Linked DNA regions of Homo sapiens: region 2 is linked to region 1. The links come from fine-mapping of genetic effects on gene expression. A gene starts in region 1. The other region holds a variant in brackets. All regions are shown on one strand. Distances are from middle to middle. Region 1 holds the start of SLC1A4 (solute carrier family 1 member 4). Region 2 overlaps SLC1A4 (solute carrier family 1 member 4).

Region 1 (8,418 bases):
TTCCTGATAACCTGTTTCTGTCTCTTTGGTGCCCAACCATTTCATTTTGGATAAAAACCCACAAGTCAACCACTTAGGTCACACATGGTTCTGAAAGTCCTATACTGTTCTGGATTCCCAGGCACAGAACTCCGGGCTGCTCAGGAAGAGACTATGATTCTTCCACCTGCCAGCTACTATTGGCCATCCCTTCTCATTGCTTCTAGCTCCAGCCTTCTCATCCCAATTCTCTATTCTACATTGTTATTTCTAACCCATTGTGTGCTGGGAAATCAAACCACTCAGCAATGACATTCTGAATTTTAAAAAAACATATACACATGTAATGAATACCTACTAGCTTCATCTCTTTCTGACTTGTAGTTCCAGCTTTAAAAACCAAATTAGAAATCATGACAGAGAGACCCTGGGGGATTTGGGGGCACTTTACCATCAGGAAAGGGCATGGACTTTAGCACAAAGCCTCAGCAGCAGCTATGCTGACTCATCAGAGGCCTTTCCCACTCTTCCAGGTGTTTAAGTTCTGAGCAGCTACCTCGAGAGGGCCTGCTGGATAACTGAGGCGTTTACTGGCAGAGTCTCATTTCATTCACGTGCCCCTAGGAAGAAAGGAATGGGGCACTGCCTTTCCAAAGAAGATGCCCAGAGTCACATGAAATCCACATCCGTGAAGTTTCCTTGAAGGAAGCAATTTTTTAATTTTGATGTCAGAGACTCTCCAGACTCAGGAAGCATTTCCGGGTGGCTTGGGACTTAGTTTCCTTTCACAAGCTGCTTCAGCCTGAGACCAAACCTCAGCGGTGCACACATACTTTCCTTCACTTGAGGAGCTCAGCCTCCACGCTGGCTGGAGGAAAGGAGCATTTGTCTTTACCCAGTCATATGCCTACCTGGTTCCTCTCTGGGCCCAGAGAAAGCATTTCTGAGATAGCCACACTAGACTAGGCAGGTGACATTACTAAGGCATGTTGACTTGGAGGAAGAGGGATTAGGAGAAAGAGAGAGAACCCTGCACTGTGGGGTAGGAGACCCACAGTCCTTCTAATCTCTTCTTTATAAGCCACTCCATGACCTTGAGCAAATCGCTTAATCTCTGTCTCAGTTTTGTCAGTCATAAAATGGGATATACCACCTGCCCTACCTTTATCCGTGAGCTGCTGGATTAGATGAAGTTGGCTGTTGGAAGAATTATGAAGCAATACCTATCCCCAGCAAGCCACAACAAAGCCTCTCTTAGCCCTCCATGCAGGTGCAGCCCAAGTCATTGAAAAGTTGCACCCACACTACTAAGCTATGACGCTGGGTCACCATCCATGTCAGAAGCAGGAGGTGAAGGGGCTTGGGTCTAAAACTAGAAAACCATGATCAGGAAACAAGAAGTCCCTTCAGGAGGTAATGAGGTACCCCCTACCACCACTGCCCCCTCTTCTGGAGTTAAAAGATCCTATTGAGGCTCCCGGTGCGGGACCATAGCAGGACAGAGCTGAACATCCATTCTCCCTCCCTGGGCCACAGATCCCTGCAAAGAATAATCCTTTAACCCCATTATTGCCTTTCCTCCCTGAGAGAGCTGACCGACCTCCTACAGGTAATAGGCTAAAGGTGCTCTCAACCTCAGGAGACTTCTTTTCAGCACTCACCTAAAAGTTAGTTTCCAAACTTAAAAAGTGTCTGGACTCCAAATATCAAGCTGCCAGTCACAGAACAAAGGCTGTGATCTAGACCAGCCTGGGCAGCATAGTGAAACCCCATCTCTAAAAAAATTTAAAACAGTTAGCTGGGGCCAGGCAGGGTGGCTCACACCTGTAATCCCAGCACTTTGGGAGGCCGAGGCGGGTGGCTCACGAGGTCAGGAGATCAAGACCATCCTGGCTAACATGGTGAAACCCCGTCTCTACTAAAAAATACAAAAAATTAGCCGGGCGTGGTGGCACGCGCCTGTAATCCCAGCTACTCGGGAGGCTGAGGCAGGAGAATGGCGTGAACCCAGGAGGCGGAGCTTGCAGTGAGCCGAGATCGCACACTGCACTCCAGCCTGGGTGACAGAGCGAGACTCCGTCTCAAAAAACAAACAAACAAACAAACAAAAAGCTGGGTGTGGTGGTGTGCACCTGTAATCTCAGCTACTCTGGAGACTGAGGCAGGAGGATCGCTGAAGCCTAGGAGTTCGGGGATGCAGTGAGCTAGGATCCCAACACTGCACTCCAGTCTGGGCAAAAGAGCAAGACCCAGACTTTAAAAAAAAAAAAAAAAAAAAAAAGCTGTGATCCCCTTAAAAGTCCTAATAGGCCACCACTATCTGCCCTTTTGGCAAGAACTTTTGGTCTCCCTCATGAGTGGTTTTTTTTTGTTGTTGTTTGTTTGTTTTTAAATACGGATGTCCTAGATTTTTGTTGTTTTAAGTGAACAATCTCTCTCTTAAGTGCAGACAGCCATCACATTTTCCAGAAGGAGAAATGGAAACAGTTGGAAAGGCAAGTCACTTTGCCCAGGGTTTGCTGTTTTTCACAACCTCAGCAATGAGGAGCTTTGCCTCAATAACTCAAGACAAAATATATTAATAACTCCAAGGCTCAGAATCCAAAATCATCAGAAATCTGGAGAAGGAGCCAGCTGGACTCCTCACTCAACTGAACCTGGTTAGATCAGTAAATGCCTCCGGGCTGCAGTTTCCCCATTTGTGAACTTTGGGCTAATGGAGAAACCAGGAGAGACCAAGGTTTTGGATAAGTCACAGAAAGGATACTACATCATCTCAAAGGATGAAATGCAACTTCTAAGAATTGCAAAAAGCAGGCAAAACTAAGTGAAGATGCTTCTCTCCCTCCCCTCTAGAACTCACACTTTCGCACAAAGAAAGGCCTTTGAAACACAGCACTCTGCCGTGGTCTTTACTGGGGTGGACAGCAACCTGTCCCAAGCCCCAAGCCCTCAGGAGAGGCATATTTCTGGGCAATATGTCTCACTCAACTAACCCCAGCCCTATTATCCGTGGGTCCACTGATAACTGCAGAAAATTGCCAGCTTCCTTCGCAGCCAAGGACTGTAACAGAGAAGGCCATAGATTGCAAGCCGGATGACCCAAGAGGCAAAACTTAACCAATGCTCCCAGAAGCTTTTAGGCACCATGTGGGAGAAAATGAGGCGAAGCCACTGGGGCGTGGTCGGAACATTTTTACCGGGGAGAGCAGCGCGAGAGTATAAGGAGTAAAGAACAGGCGGGGCGGCTGGCTCTTCCCTAACAAACGCCCACCTAACGGTGGGGACTGGTTCTTGCTCAAAGATGCGGCCCTGCTCTTTCGATTGTGCGGTGCGCCCCAGCTGTTTGCAAAGGTGTGGTCAGCACGCAAAAACTCCAGACGTCATTTTGATATTTTTAAAACGTTAAACGCCACCAGCAGCCAGCTAAGAATTAACTCTTAGGAGTGTATAAGCATATGGGTGTATGAACTGGAGGGCATCCGAGAACTGGCGTCTCCCACTGGGCCCTGGGAGAGGTGGAGAGTGTTACCTGGCCAGGTCGAGGAAAGAGTCCACCGTCTCTTTGGGGACAGGAGGAGGCCCCGAGTCCTCCAGCCCCAGGTCGCTGGACTGAAGGGTCTGCGCACCGGATCCTGGCTTGATGATGAACGCCAAGGCCACGGCGAGCGCCGAGGCACTCAGTGTGGTGAGGCCAAAGTAGGCGACAGCGATGCCGCCCAGACGCCCGAGGCAGCTGGCATCGAGCGAGGCGGCGCCCGACACCAGGCTGCAGACCACCAGCGGCAGGATGATCATGCGCAGCATGCGGAGCAGCATCTCGCCGGGGAAGGCCAGGTAGGTGACCTGCGTGCGGCTCAGGCTGAGCCCGCGCAACGCCGCGCCCAGGCCCGCGCCCGCCAGCACCCCGGACACGGTGAGCAGCACCAGCGCTTGGCGCCGCAGGAAGCCCGCGCAACGCCGTGCGCGTCCCGCCGCGGTCCCCGGAGCTCCGGGCCCGGCCGCAGGCCCCGCCTGAGCGCTGTCAAGGTAGCCGTTGGTCTCGTTGCTCTTCTCCATGGCGCTACACGCCGCTCCGAGCTAGAGGTGGCAGGGGACGTGGGCTCTGGCAAAAGACGGGGTTCCCAATGAATGGGTCGGTCGGCCAGTTGTGCTCCGCAGGTTCTGGGAAGCCGCCCCGGGGGTCTCCGGGCCTGGCGCAGGAGCAGGTGCGAGAAAGGCGAGGAGAGGCGCAGAGTGCGGGTTGGAGCCGCGGGCGGAGAGGATCGCGCCCAGCCTCCCTGGAGCAGCCGCCGGCTGGAGATGATGCAAACGGGAGCCGCGAACGCGGACGCAGACGGGGAAGTAGGAGGGCGCGCCAGCGGCCCCAGCCCGCTCACTTCACGCCCGCCGTCCCGCCCCCTGTGGCGCTGGCCAATCACAGCCCGGGAGCCGCCGCCGGGAGCCGCCGCCGGGAGCCTCTGGTCCCCACCCGTGTCGCGGGTGCCGCAGGGGGCGGCCGGGCGGGAGGCTCCACCCGAGGCCGCGGGGGCGCGGGCGGCGCCGGCCAATCCTGGCGCCAATAGCCGCCTACCCGCCCGGCTAACGGAGGCCGGCTCCGGGCGACCGCGGGGAAGTGCGGGCTGAAGGACCGCCCGGGCTCCTTGGCACCTGCCGGGCCCTCTCCCGCGGCCGGGATCTGAGTCCTCGGGGCCAGAGGGCCCGGGAGAACTTAGAACGCAGCGGCGTTCCTCCTCCTGAGGACTGTGGGAGGGGAGGGAGGGGAGGGGAGAAGAGAGGAGGAGAGGGGAGGATCCCTCTCTCCCGGGTGGCGCTTTCGCCCCGCGCGGCCCGCGCTCCTCTCCAGAGCTCGCCGGCCTCTCCCGCCAGGGGGCCGGGCGCGGTGAGGGGGCCCGGGGCGGTCCTGCCGTCGCGTCCCCTCCTGCGGAAGATCCCTTCTTCCAGGGGTCCTCAGGGGCTTGTGCGGTAAAGCACGCCATGGTGCCCAGCAAGGCCCCGGCCTTGAGACAAAGGACGGACCGGAGGATGGATGAATAAGGGGAGCCTTCGCACGCGCTCATTAGGGCTCTAACGCAGCCATACCGCTAGAGAAAGGGGGCTCGCTGTGCCACCAAACCCGGCGCCCCTGGGCCGCGGAACCGCGCGCACCGGGGCGCTCCTGGGCTTGTGTCCTGGGGCCATCAGGATGGGGCTGGGTCGCCCGCCAGGCAGCTGTCTGCGGTATGGGCGTTTAAGACGCAAAGCTCTTCTAGAAGAAACAGAGCTCTCACGCCACCACTTCCAGTTGGTTTCTGCCACGTAACCAAAGCTGAAACACAAGCCACTGGATTTTAACCTCTTCCGTTCCCAGGCCTGAGCCCTGGCGAGAAAACAGCGCAGACGGCGGTTTGGCCATCCTGAACGGTTCCTTATTGTTCACGTTCTATGGATTTCCTGTTTATTTCATCTTTTATTTGATATCTGCTTTGGCCACGCGAGTTACAAGGGAAACTTCTGCTGAGTCTTTTTACTGTATCACAGTTATTATATTTTTATATTTTTTTATTCTGCTTGTGAATTGTTCTTTAAAGACTTCCGTGGGTGGTCTTTTGTTTTTTCTTTTTCCTTCCTTCCTTCCTTCCTTCCTTCCTTCCTTCCTTCCTTCCTTCCTCCCCCCCTCCCTCCCTCCCTCCCTTCCTTCCTTCTTTCCTTCTTTCCCTTTCTTTCCTTTCTTTCCTCTCTTTCTGGGACAAGGTCTCGCTATGTTGCCCAGGCTGGTCTCCCAGTTCCTGGGCTTATGGGATCCTCCTTGGTAGCTGGCACCACCCACTGTGCCAGGCAAGGGAAGACTTAATTGTGGCTAACCTCAATTAAGGAGGAAGGCAATTTACTATAGATTTCTTGCTATAAAGGAGTCATCTTAAAACATGTCATGACATATTTGTGCAAATCAAAATGCCTTCATAAGGAACTTTAAGGAGCTGTCCAAATTTTGAGACAGTGAGTATTTTATTGCTTGGAGCCAGCCAGCTATTGGCTAGAACTTGTAAGGATTGTGTGTGGGGGGGGGGGGGGTGGGCGGGGGAGGTAGTGTCAGATGAAGAGCTGCACATATTTATATCTGGCTTTCCAGAATGCAGTTCATTTCTCTATGTGCACTGAAGAAAGAGTAATTCCTACAGACACACACTGTGTTTTGCCAATCAGCCCTTCCCTTTGTTTTGACTACCACGTTTATGCAAAAGACTCTCAAATCATGCTCCAGAAATGAGTCTTCGGCTGCCTGTTTTACATCTTCACCTGAATATCCTGCAGGCGTCCCAACTAAAATGTTCAAAACCAAACTCATGGTTGCCTTCCTCAAACCTGCTCATCCCTTCGGTTAAAACATAATTGATGACCCAGTCACCTCTGTGTGAAACTTCAAAGCGAACTTTGATTCTTCCCTCTGTGGTGCCTTCTCTCATCTAATGAATTGCCAAGTCCCACAGAGATTCCTTTCACAATATTTATCACATCTGCCCATCCCATCTATTCCCACTGCTACCACACTGGCTCAGTTCTTATTTCCTCACTTCTTATCTGGGCTATTGAAATGTTCTCCCAATTAGTCTTCCCACCTCCAATGCTCCTCTTGTTCCAACCATCCTGTATTTTGCCTTGCCCCAGGCTAATCTTCCTAATGAGTAATATACATGTTAGGATAAAGTTCAGCTTTCACCCAGCAGAAAAGAAAGAGCAATGAGGGCATGGCATCTCTCTTTAAAAACACTTCCTAAAAGTCATACACATTATTTCTCTTATATTTCATCGATAAGAATTTAGTCAAATGACCATTCTTTTCTGCAAGAAACGTTAGGGAATGTAATTTTTGTTTTACACAGGCATCCACCCAGTTAAAAAATTGGAGTTTCTGTTACTAAGGAAACACAGAAAAATGATATTGGAGGACAACTCCTTCATATCACTTCTTGTTCAAAAGCTTTCAGTGGCTCCCAGTGAATTAAGAATGTGTTCCTCATCCTGGCATTCGAGACCTACCATGATCTGGCCTCAGCCTGCTCTCTAGCCATGTGCCCTCTATGCCTCCTGCAAAAATGGCGCTGTGTGCTCCTTCCACATTGTTTTGCCTCTCCATCCAGTCCCAGTTCAGATACCACATTCCTCCCATAGCCTTTCTGAATCCTCTTTGCACCAACTCTGCTTGCTGCTTGCAGCTTTTTATGCTGTACCTGTGCACTCCAAAGCTGCAATAACAGTCAGTCAACCCTCAATTGGGAGTGGGGAACTCCCTGAACTACTAGACATCGTGTGGTGCTGAGTGTGAGAGCACTGTTTGGGGGTGCCTTATACTATGCCACATATATCTGTCATTGAATTAGCGAAAGGGTCTCTTGGGGCCTTTTATCTCCAGAGGGCTGCCCTGTAGCCATTCTGCCTACTTGTGAGGCAAACCAAGAAATAGGTGTCCTCTTCTGGCCTCCGTGACATTTGGTGGTATTACTATATCTCTCTATGAAAGGGTTCACTTTCTGCCACCTTTTTCCCTCTTTCTTCCTCTCCTTTTGCATTTTTTGGTCTTTTGATAATTTTACATGCCTCCTGTTTGTAGGTATTTTGTGCAAAAAAAAAGTTGATTCCTGTGTTAGACACCTTCCCCCACAGTACTTATATGTGTTTTCCCTGATTTCTGGATGCGTAAGTACTGAATTATAGCAACGCCTTACAAGTGATCCAGCCTGACAGCATTACCGCTACTGTCATCTGATCCCGTGATAGGCTAAAGTATTGTTCAGCCAAAATTTATTCCCTTGTTTCTTCCACTTAGATAGGAGTTTACCTTCCCCATTGCCTTTGAGCTTTGCCATTTAGCTCCTTGGCTAGTGGACTAAGTGGATGTGATGCAAGCGGAGGCATCAAAATGTTTTCACACAATCGCATGTGGACTCCTGCATACGTGTGACCCAGCATGCCTTGGGTAGATGCTGCCCTTTCAGCCTGGCACCAGAACAAAGACAGGAGTGTGCCTGAATTTAGCCTGCAGCCCTGATCAAACCCAGCTGCCTCACAGCCTAAAGAAGAACACCCCAGTCAACCCACAGACCCATGCGTGAGAAAAATAAATGCTTATTGAAACCCACTGAGTTCCGGAGTCATGTGTTATACTGCGTTATTGTAGCAATAACTGAGTAATACAAATGCTCACTTCAGCATCTGTTCCAGTTATCTGTTGCTGCATAACAAACCAGCCTAAACCACGCTGGCATAAAACAACAACCATCTCAAAAAGGAGTGGCATAAAACAACCACCAATTTTTTTATGCTCATGATTTTATAGGCCAGAAATTCAGACAGGGCATAACAGGAGGTCTCATTTCTGTTTCACAATGACTGAAACCCCAAGCTGGGGTGGCTTAATGGCTAGAGATGGCTAGGACAGCTCACTTGGGGTCCTTTGCC
Region 2 (8,000 bases), 27 kb before region 1:
TTAAAAATCACACATAAGCCAGGCACAGTGGCTCATGTCTGTAATCCCAGCAATTTGGGAGGCTGAGGTGGGAGGACTGTTTAAGGCCAGGAGTTTGAGACCAGCCTGGGCAACATAGTGAGATCCTATCTCTACAAAAAATAAACAAATTAGCTGGGCATGGTAGAGTGTGCCTGTAATCCTAGCTACTCAGGAGGCTGAGGTGGGGGGATTGCTTGAGTCCAGGAGTTCAAAGCTTCAGTGAGCTATGATGATGCCATTGCACTCTAGCCTGGACCACAGAGTAAGACCCTGACTCTAATAAGTAAACAAATAAACAAACATATTGGGATAATAGTGTGGATACGGTTTTGTGTCTAGCTTTTCTTCCACTGAATAATACACTGTGGGAGTTTCCCTTCTTTTTCTCATTTCAACGCTACTTTACTGCGGATGTTAATCTTCATATGTGTTCCATTGCCATCGGCAAATATAAATACCATCTCAAAGAAAATATCACTATCCTTTCCAGAAGCTAGCTTGTTGTGTTATAGATTAGCCAATACCATTCCCCTGTCCCTGGAGCTCAGAGGAAGTATTGTGCACATTTTGAAGAGAGGGAAAAATGTGATCTTCCCTGAGGGCACTGGGGAGCTGACTCCCTGCAGAGTGCCGTCCTGCTGTCTGCAGAATCAGAGGGGATGGGGTGGCTGGCAGGCCTGTGTGACTTCAGGTCTCCACTGGGCAGCCGGCTTGGTGCCCTGTTTCCCTGTTCCTGGCCAAGCACCTCTTTGATGCCTCTTCTCCACGCACAGGAGGTGGCTGGGTGAGGAAGGAGAGGGGGCCTCTGTCAGCTCTGGTCCTGTCCAGCTGGCCAGCTCAGGGACGGAGTTCCCTCTGATGAGGTGTCTGCGCAATGCAGGTCTCTTTTGCAGATTTTACCCTCATTGCTCTGAGAAGCCCCTTCAAGTTGGAAAAACCACCATTCCCACCTGCAGCAGGCCAGTCCGTGAGCCCAGTGCCAGGCCCTGCCTGTGACGAACCTGGTCTGGAGTGTCTTTCTTTGCTGACATGAATTGAATGTTTTACCACGTGCTCATTATTCTGTGTGCTGTTCCCGTGCTAACTCGCTCAATCTTCCCCACAACCCTGGTGTGGGTGCTATGATCATTCCCATTTTACAGATGAGCAGACCAAAGCACACACAGTGCACATTACACAACTACTAGATGGCAAATCTGGGATTTCAATCCAGGCACCTGGGCTCCAGGGCTCATTTTCTTACCCACAGGCTCTACTGTCTCAACTTTAGTACCTCAGGCAGCCTTCCCTATAAAATAGATATTATTCATGCCTGCAAAAGGTATCATGTGACTCAAGGAATCCATGCACAGAAACTGTTTTGTGTCTTCACAGCAGCCCCAGAGATGTGGTCTGGATCACACCTTCTTCCCTACCTCCTCCTCTGCTGAGCCCAAGCCCAAGTCACTCACATCAGCATGGTTCATCCTCCCTCCCCTCACAGAAATCACTCCTTAGAATCTTCCAGGCCAGGGACAATCATTCCCAAAGGATCACTGCTCCATCGACTTATTACTCCTATGCAGTCAGCAACTCCATAGACCCTCGTGTCCCTTGGGCCTGCGCTGAGGGCCTCAGCTGTGGACCCCTGCTTTACTGGATGCTATAAGCAAGTTCTTGGTAATGACATCTCATGGTCATTCCTGGATGTTTGGGGGCATGTGACTCTCATATTGTTTAATTTTTCCTAGCTCTAAATCTTGCCCTTTTAGCTCCACTGTAGCCTCCTTCACAAGGCTGGAGTGTGTCTGAAGTTTCTCTGCATGGCCCAGGCCCAGCAGTGCTAAGCTCCTAGGGAACTCAGTGCAGACTCTTTTTGGTGTTCTCAGGACTTGTTACTTACACAATCCAGTCCACAGCCAGGATCAGAGGCAGGTCATGAGTAGGCAGCCCAATGGCCTCCAGGATAATGGCAATGGTGAGGACCCCTCCAGCTGGCACGCCTGCTGCTCCAACACTGGACGCTGTGGCAGTCACTCTAAGGGATGGCAGAGCAGGGCCAGCCATTAACATAGAGCGTGGAGTGGACACAGAGAAATGCAGACCATGCAGCTGCAATGTGGCTGGAAACTAAAAACCGCCCCACCATAGGCTCTGCTGGCTACGCCCTTGAGAGTCAACACACGCTCTTCAAGTAATGAATCCCCACTGTCCTCATTTTATGAGCGAGACACCAAGTTGTGGTGAGATTGGTTTTTCAAAGGAAATCACAAGAAAAGCCTTCAGTTTTGAGCCAGGGAAAGAATGAGGAACTTACAGAATGGTGAAAATCTGTCCTGCGTTGAGCTCTACGTTGTTGAGTTGCGCAATGAACACCGCGGCCACACACTGGAAGATGGCTGCTCCGTCCATGTTCACGGTGGCCCCGATGGGGAGAATAAACCTGCTGATCCTCTTGTCCACACCATTGTTCTCTTCAATGCACTTCATCATAGAGGGAAGGGTCGCTGAGCTAGAAATGGGAAAAACAAACCGCCAGACATGACAACAGTCCGAGGCAGGCTAACATGTGTCTTGTCTCAGACCCCAGAACAGAGCAATTAGCACCATCTTCGTTTCTGGCTTTCTTCTCTTGAAATAAGGGAAAAAACAGAATCACTTTAAAACTTCTGTCACAACATGAGGCTTTGGCAACTCCCAAGATACTTAAAATATGACTGCCTTCATTTACCTATTCTGTCATTTACTTGGATTCACGTGTTCCAAGTTTCTTAAGAACTGCACATTGCCTCCCGGTGCAAAACGTTCCCGAGAGAACAAACAACTAGTTTCTCTACATGTGCATCTCCTCTCTTGAGTGTTCCCCTCCCAAAAGTAAATGGTAAACTATGATTTTTTTTTCTTTTAGGCCAAAACCCAGAAATGGCTCTGTGAGCTTGGAAGAATAACTAAGTAGATAACCATAAGAACAGTACCTGCTCCCTCTAGCTGGCTCTGCGGGCTCTGCAGAGGTTAGTTGGTGCAGCTGAGAAACAGGTTTTTGTCTAGGCCAGAGGAACTTCCTTCCCTAATTTTTTTTTTTTTTTTACTCCCACCTCTGTGTTATATAAATAGCCATCCAGATTGGGAGGAAGTGAGCAGTAGAGGCAAAACTAAATGTGTGAATGAAACGACGTGCTGCCGTCCTTTGAAAGTTTTAACATATTTGGAAAACCCAGTGTTTTTTTTTTTTTTTAAGGTTTTCCAGTGAATGACAGGATGCATCTCTTGTGCCAAATGAGACAATCCCACACTATTGTGGACTCCTAGAGGGCTAAGCATCCATCCCTCACCACGGTGCCTCAGACTCGTTTTCTAATTCACATATCCAGAAAGGGAGAATTGGGCAGGAACCATTCTAGAAACTTCCCTGCAATGCATTTTTGAGTTAGGTGGGCTGCCTTCTTTTACTCAGGGAAAGGTCTTCCTAATTAGGGTGAGGGACCCGCAGCTGGGCTAACTAATGATCTGCTGACCTCTAAGGAGCAAGAGGGAGAAGAGAATGAGGTAACTTCAGTAGAATAGTAAATGAAACAGAAACCCACCCCAGGGGAATACAGAAAAGCTTTGGGGCTGGTCATTTTAAGAAATCATGTGAGGCTTGGTGTGGCTGTGCATGCCTGTAATCACAGCTATTCGGAAGGCCGAGGTGGGAGGATCACTTGAGCCCAGGAGTTCGAGACCAGCCTGGGCAATCACGGGAAGATCCTGTCTCTTAAAGAAGAAAAAACAAAAAAATAACAGAAGACCGATTTAGAGTTTTCCAGGAATTAAAGTATGTCAAGACACTGGTTGTGCATCTACCACTGGGCTCACCTGGTTCCATGTTAACATGGCTCAGAGCAGTGAAGAGACCCAAAACCCACTCACCTGGAGCAGGTAGCAAATGCTGTCGCAAATGGGGCGAGGAGGCCCAGGAGGAATCTGAATGGGTTTTTTCGTGTGAAAACAAAATAAATAAGTGGCAGAACAATTCCTCCATGAATAACATGGCCCAATATAGATGCGAAGATGTATTTCCCCAGGCTGGTCACCAGCACGATGATGTCTTTCATTTCCACGATCTTGCTTCCAACAAGGAACATGATGCCCACAGGTACGTACCTAGGGCACAAGCACAGGGTACTCATCAGTGGGGGATAAAGCTGGGGTGAGAGATGCAGGTCCTTCCTGAGGCAGAATGCAGGGACTTTCAGCCAGGCCGTCTTCATCTCTCCCTAGGATAACCCCGAGGAACCGAAACAGTCAGGGTTATACCATCCCCATTTTACAGCCTGTGAGACTGGGTAAAATGAGGCTGACCACTCACCAAGGGTAACAGAGTCAGGACCAGAACCCAGACGTCTTTCCCCTTGG[A/G]TACAGTATGTCCTTAACAGAAGGATGCTACCAGTCACAGGGATTCCCAGGAGGAAAGGCAAGGAAATCGAGATCAAAGCCTCCAGGACTGTAAGCCTGACTTTTGGCTTTGCTCAGGCTTGTTCTGAGAACTTAGAAACACAAAAGACTAACACCTATTTCACAGAGTGGCTGTGATAGAAAATTGAGCCAAAGCTAGGACTTTTGTGAAGTTTTAAATTCTTTGTGGCTTAGACAACATGATTCCGTGGGAAAAAGTCATTAACAATGACACTCTGGGAACACGCCTGGAGCGTGAGAGTTTTTTAAAGGCAGGATGGGAAGGAATGGACTGTGGGAGCTACAAAGAACAAAAGTCAGTTGTTTTGAATTAATATAAATTCAGGAAGAATTTTCTAACTGCTGACTTTATTTGTAAATTTTAATTGCGTAGGTAATAATGTCACATAGTTCAAATTTCAAGGGGTACAAAAGAGTGAACAGAGTGAAGTCTCCCTCTCATCTCTCTCCCAAGCACCCAGATTTCCCCTCCCTGGAGACAATGTCACTGGTTTCTTGAGTTTTCTTTCTAGAGATATTCTAAGCAGTAATTATTAATTAAAAACCCGATAGTAATACATGAATACATTCTCCTTTCAAAAAATTAAAACGTAGATGACACCAAAATCCTCTTTAAGTACCATCCTTAAGCCAGGATCCTCCTCAAATAGACACTCCTACCTCCTATGCAATTAGATACATAGGTATGTATTTAAATCTATGTGTTTTTTTCTTTTTCACCCTATATTACATCTTTGAAATCTTTTCATATCAATACATAGAAATCTACCCCATTCATTTTTTAATGTGGTAAAATATACATAAAATTTACCATCTTAACCATTTTTAAGTGTAGAGTTCAGTGGCATGAAGTTCATTCACATTCTTGTGCAACTATCATCACTATCCAAATCCAGAACTTTTCCATCATCCCAAACTTTGAAATCATTAAACATAACAGCCTACTTTCCCCTCCTCACAGTTCCTGAGAATCACTGTTCTACTTCTTGTCTCTCTGAATTTGACTATTCTAGGTACACAAAGGTGGAATCATACAGTGTTTGTCCTTTTGTGTCTAGGTTATTCCACTTATGATGTCTTCGGGCTTCATCCACATTGGAGCATGAGCTAGAATTGTACTCCTTTCTAAGGCTGAATAATATTCTGTTGTATGTCTCTATCTCATTTTGTTTATCCATTCATCCAATGATGGACATTTGGGTTGTTTCCACCTTTACCTCATTGTCTTTAAATATTATCTTCAGAATGGAAATACCATAGGTTATTTTGTCATCGTCCTGTTGGTGGATGTTTAAGTTGTTCCCAGGTTTATCGTTACAAACGACACTGCAAACATACTTTGTGGTAACCACATGCCTTTGTTCTCTAGGTAGAGATGCTAAGAAGTGAACTGCTAAGTTATAGGATGTGCATATTTTAAATTTCAGTAGATACTGCCACTTTGTTCTCCAAAGTGGTTATTCCATATCACATTCCCACCAGCAGTCCAGGAGAATAATCTTCCCTCTGCAACAGTGGTTCTTATCCAGGGATGATTTTGTCTGGAAGACAGTTTGGTTGTCATAACTTTTGGGGCATGGTGCTAGTGGCATCATGCAGGTGGGGGCCAGGATGGTGCTAAACATCCTACAGTCATGAGACAGCCTCCCACAAAGACTGATCAGCCCAAAATGTCAATAGTGTCATGGTTGAGAAACCTCACCCTCACCATTATCAATGCCTGATAAAACCAAATTTTCATTTCCCTTATTTCTAATGAGGTTGAGCATCCCTTAAAATGTTTACTGGTAATTCAGGTTTCACATACTTTGTCTATTTTCTGATGGTTTGTTCAGTGATTTTTCTTTTTCAGTAATCAGAACTCTTTTTTTCTATATATGCAGTATGCAAATATATATATCAATTTTTAGAAATGAATGTCTTGACTTTTAACTTTGTTCAAAGTATCTTTTGCATGCAGACTTTTTATATTTTGATGTGGTTAAGTTTAGCAGCTTTTTATGGCTTTTGCTTTTTATATCTTGTTTAGGAAGGCTTTCCCTGCCTCTATATTTTCTTCTAATATTTTTAGAAGACTCCTCTCTTTCTTTCCTTCTTTTCTTCCTTTCTCCCTGGTCAGTTTAATCCAGGAGTTAGCAGCGTGAGTTTTTGTAAATAAAGTTTTGTTGGAACACAGTCATGCTCTTTCATTTACAAATTGTGAATAGGTACTTTTCTCCTACAGTGGCAGAGTTGGGTAGTTGCAATAGAGAGCATGTGGCTTGCAAAGTTGGCTGACTCTGGGTTTAATACATCTGAAAGTTATTTCTGTGAATAGTGTAGGGTAGGCAGGTACTAGGGTTTTGGAGTGGGTAGTTAGTAAAAGAAAGATTGCAGAAAGCGGTAATACTGACAATGCCTCCCATACTTGGTTGAGATCCCTTAACTAGTTAAGGCATTTTAAACTTCAATTCTGTGTAATATGCATTTCTGAGCAACAGGTCTCTCGCTCTCTTGCTGCAGTTAGACATTCAGCAGGATCTGCCTTACTGAATACCTGCTTATGTGACTGGTACATCAAATTGAAGGAATGACTAAACTGGTTTCCAGATTAAAAGCAAATGTCCGGCCGGGCGCTATGGCTCATGCCTGTAATCCTAGCACTTTGGGAGGCCAAGGTGGGCGGATCACCTGAGGTCGGGAGTTTGGGACCAGCCTGACCAACATGGAGAAACCCTGTCTCTACTAAAAATACAAAATTAGCTGGACGTGGTGGCGCATGCCTGTAATCCCAGCTTCTCGGGAGGCTGAGGCAGGAGAATCGCTTGAACCTGGGAGGCGGAGGTTGCGGTGAGCCAAAATTGTGCCACTGCACTGCAGCCTGGGCAACAAGAGTGAAACTCCGTCTCAAAAACAAACAAAACAAAACAAAATGCAAATGTCCTAACATGGACGTATCAGTGATATGGTTTGGATTTATGTCCTCACCCAAATCTCATATTGAATTGTAATCCCCCACCTTCCCCCTGTCTTTCTTCCTCCTGCTCTGGCCATGTGAAGACATGCCTGCTTCCCCTTCACCTTCTGCCATGCTTGTAAGTTTCCTGAGGCCTTCCCAGCCATGCTTCCTGTATAGCCTGTAGAACTGTGAGCCAATTAAACCTCTCTTCATTATAAATTACCCAGTTTCAGGTATTTCTTCATAGCAGTGTGAGAACGGACTAATACAATCAGTTTTTTTACTTTTAAATTTAATTTAATTGTTTATATTTTGTAGAGATAGGGCCTCACTTTTTTGCCCAGGCTGGTCTTGAACTCCTGAGCTCAAGCAATACTCTGGCCTTGGCCTCCCAAAGTGCCGGGATTACAGGCATGAGCCACTGCGCCTGCCCCAATTTCTTTTTTTTAGTCTAAACTTTGGAAAATATTAATATTTTAGACTTAACAAAAGCCAAGAAAAGAACTTGACATCTAAATACCTTTTCTTTTCTGAAAATATCAGTTCTCTCCCTAGAACAACAATCACATGAAATGGCATTGGCAGTGATAGAGTCAGGCTCTGGAAT

What was found.
Region 2: its variant is fine-mapped to the expression of SLC1A4 in whole blood (INTERVAL, PIP 0.97).

The regions. Positions count from the first base shown.
Region 1 is chr2:64,985,264-64,993,681 of GRCh38, reverse strand. SLC1A4 (solute carrier family 1 member 4) reads right to left here and starts at 4,283. Exons shown (of 8, transcript NM_003038.5): 1 at 3,512-4,283. The coding sequence starts at 4,038. RefSeq lists silencers at 3,884-4,063, 4,274-4,973 and enhancers at 3,697-4,281, 7,817-7,886, 8,197-8,266.
Region 2 is chr2:65,012,583-65,020,582 of GRCh38, reverse strand. SLC1A4 (solute carrier family 1 member 4) reads right to left here. Exons shown (of 8, transcript NM_003038.5): 5 at 3,910-4,143; 6 at 2,318-2,512; 7 at 1,904-2,038. Among named protein-coding and RNA genes, the nearest start is that of LINC02576, 14 kb to the left of the region's middle. RefSeq lists an enhancer at 3,478-3,557. The variant A/G (reference allele first, on the strand shown) is at 4,396.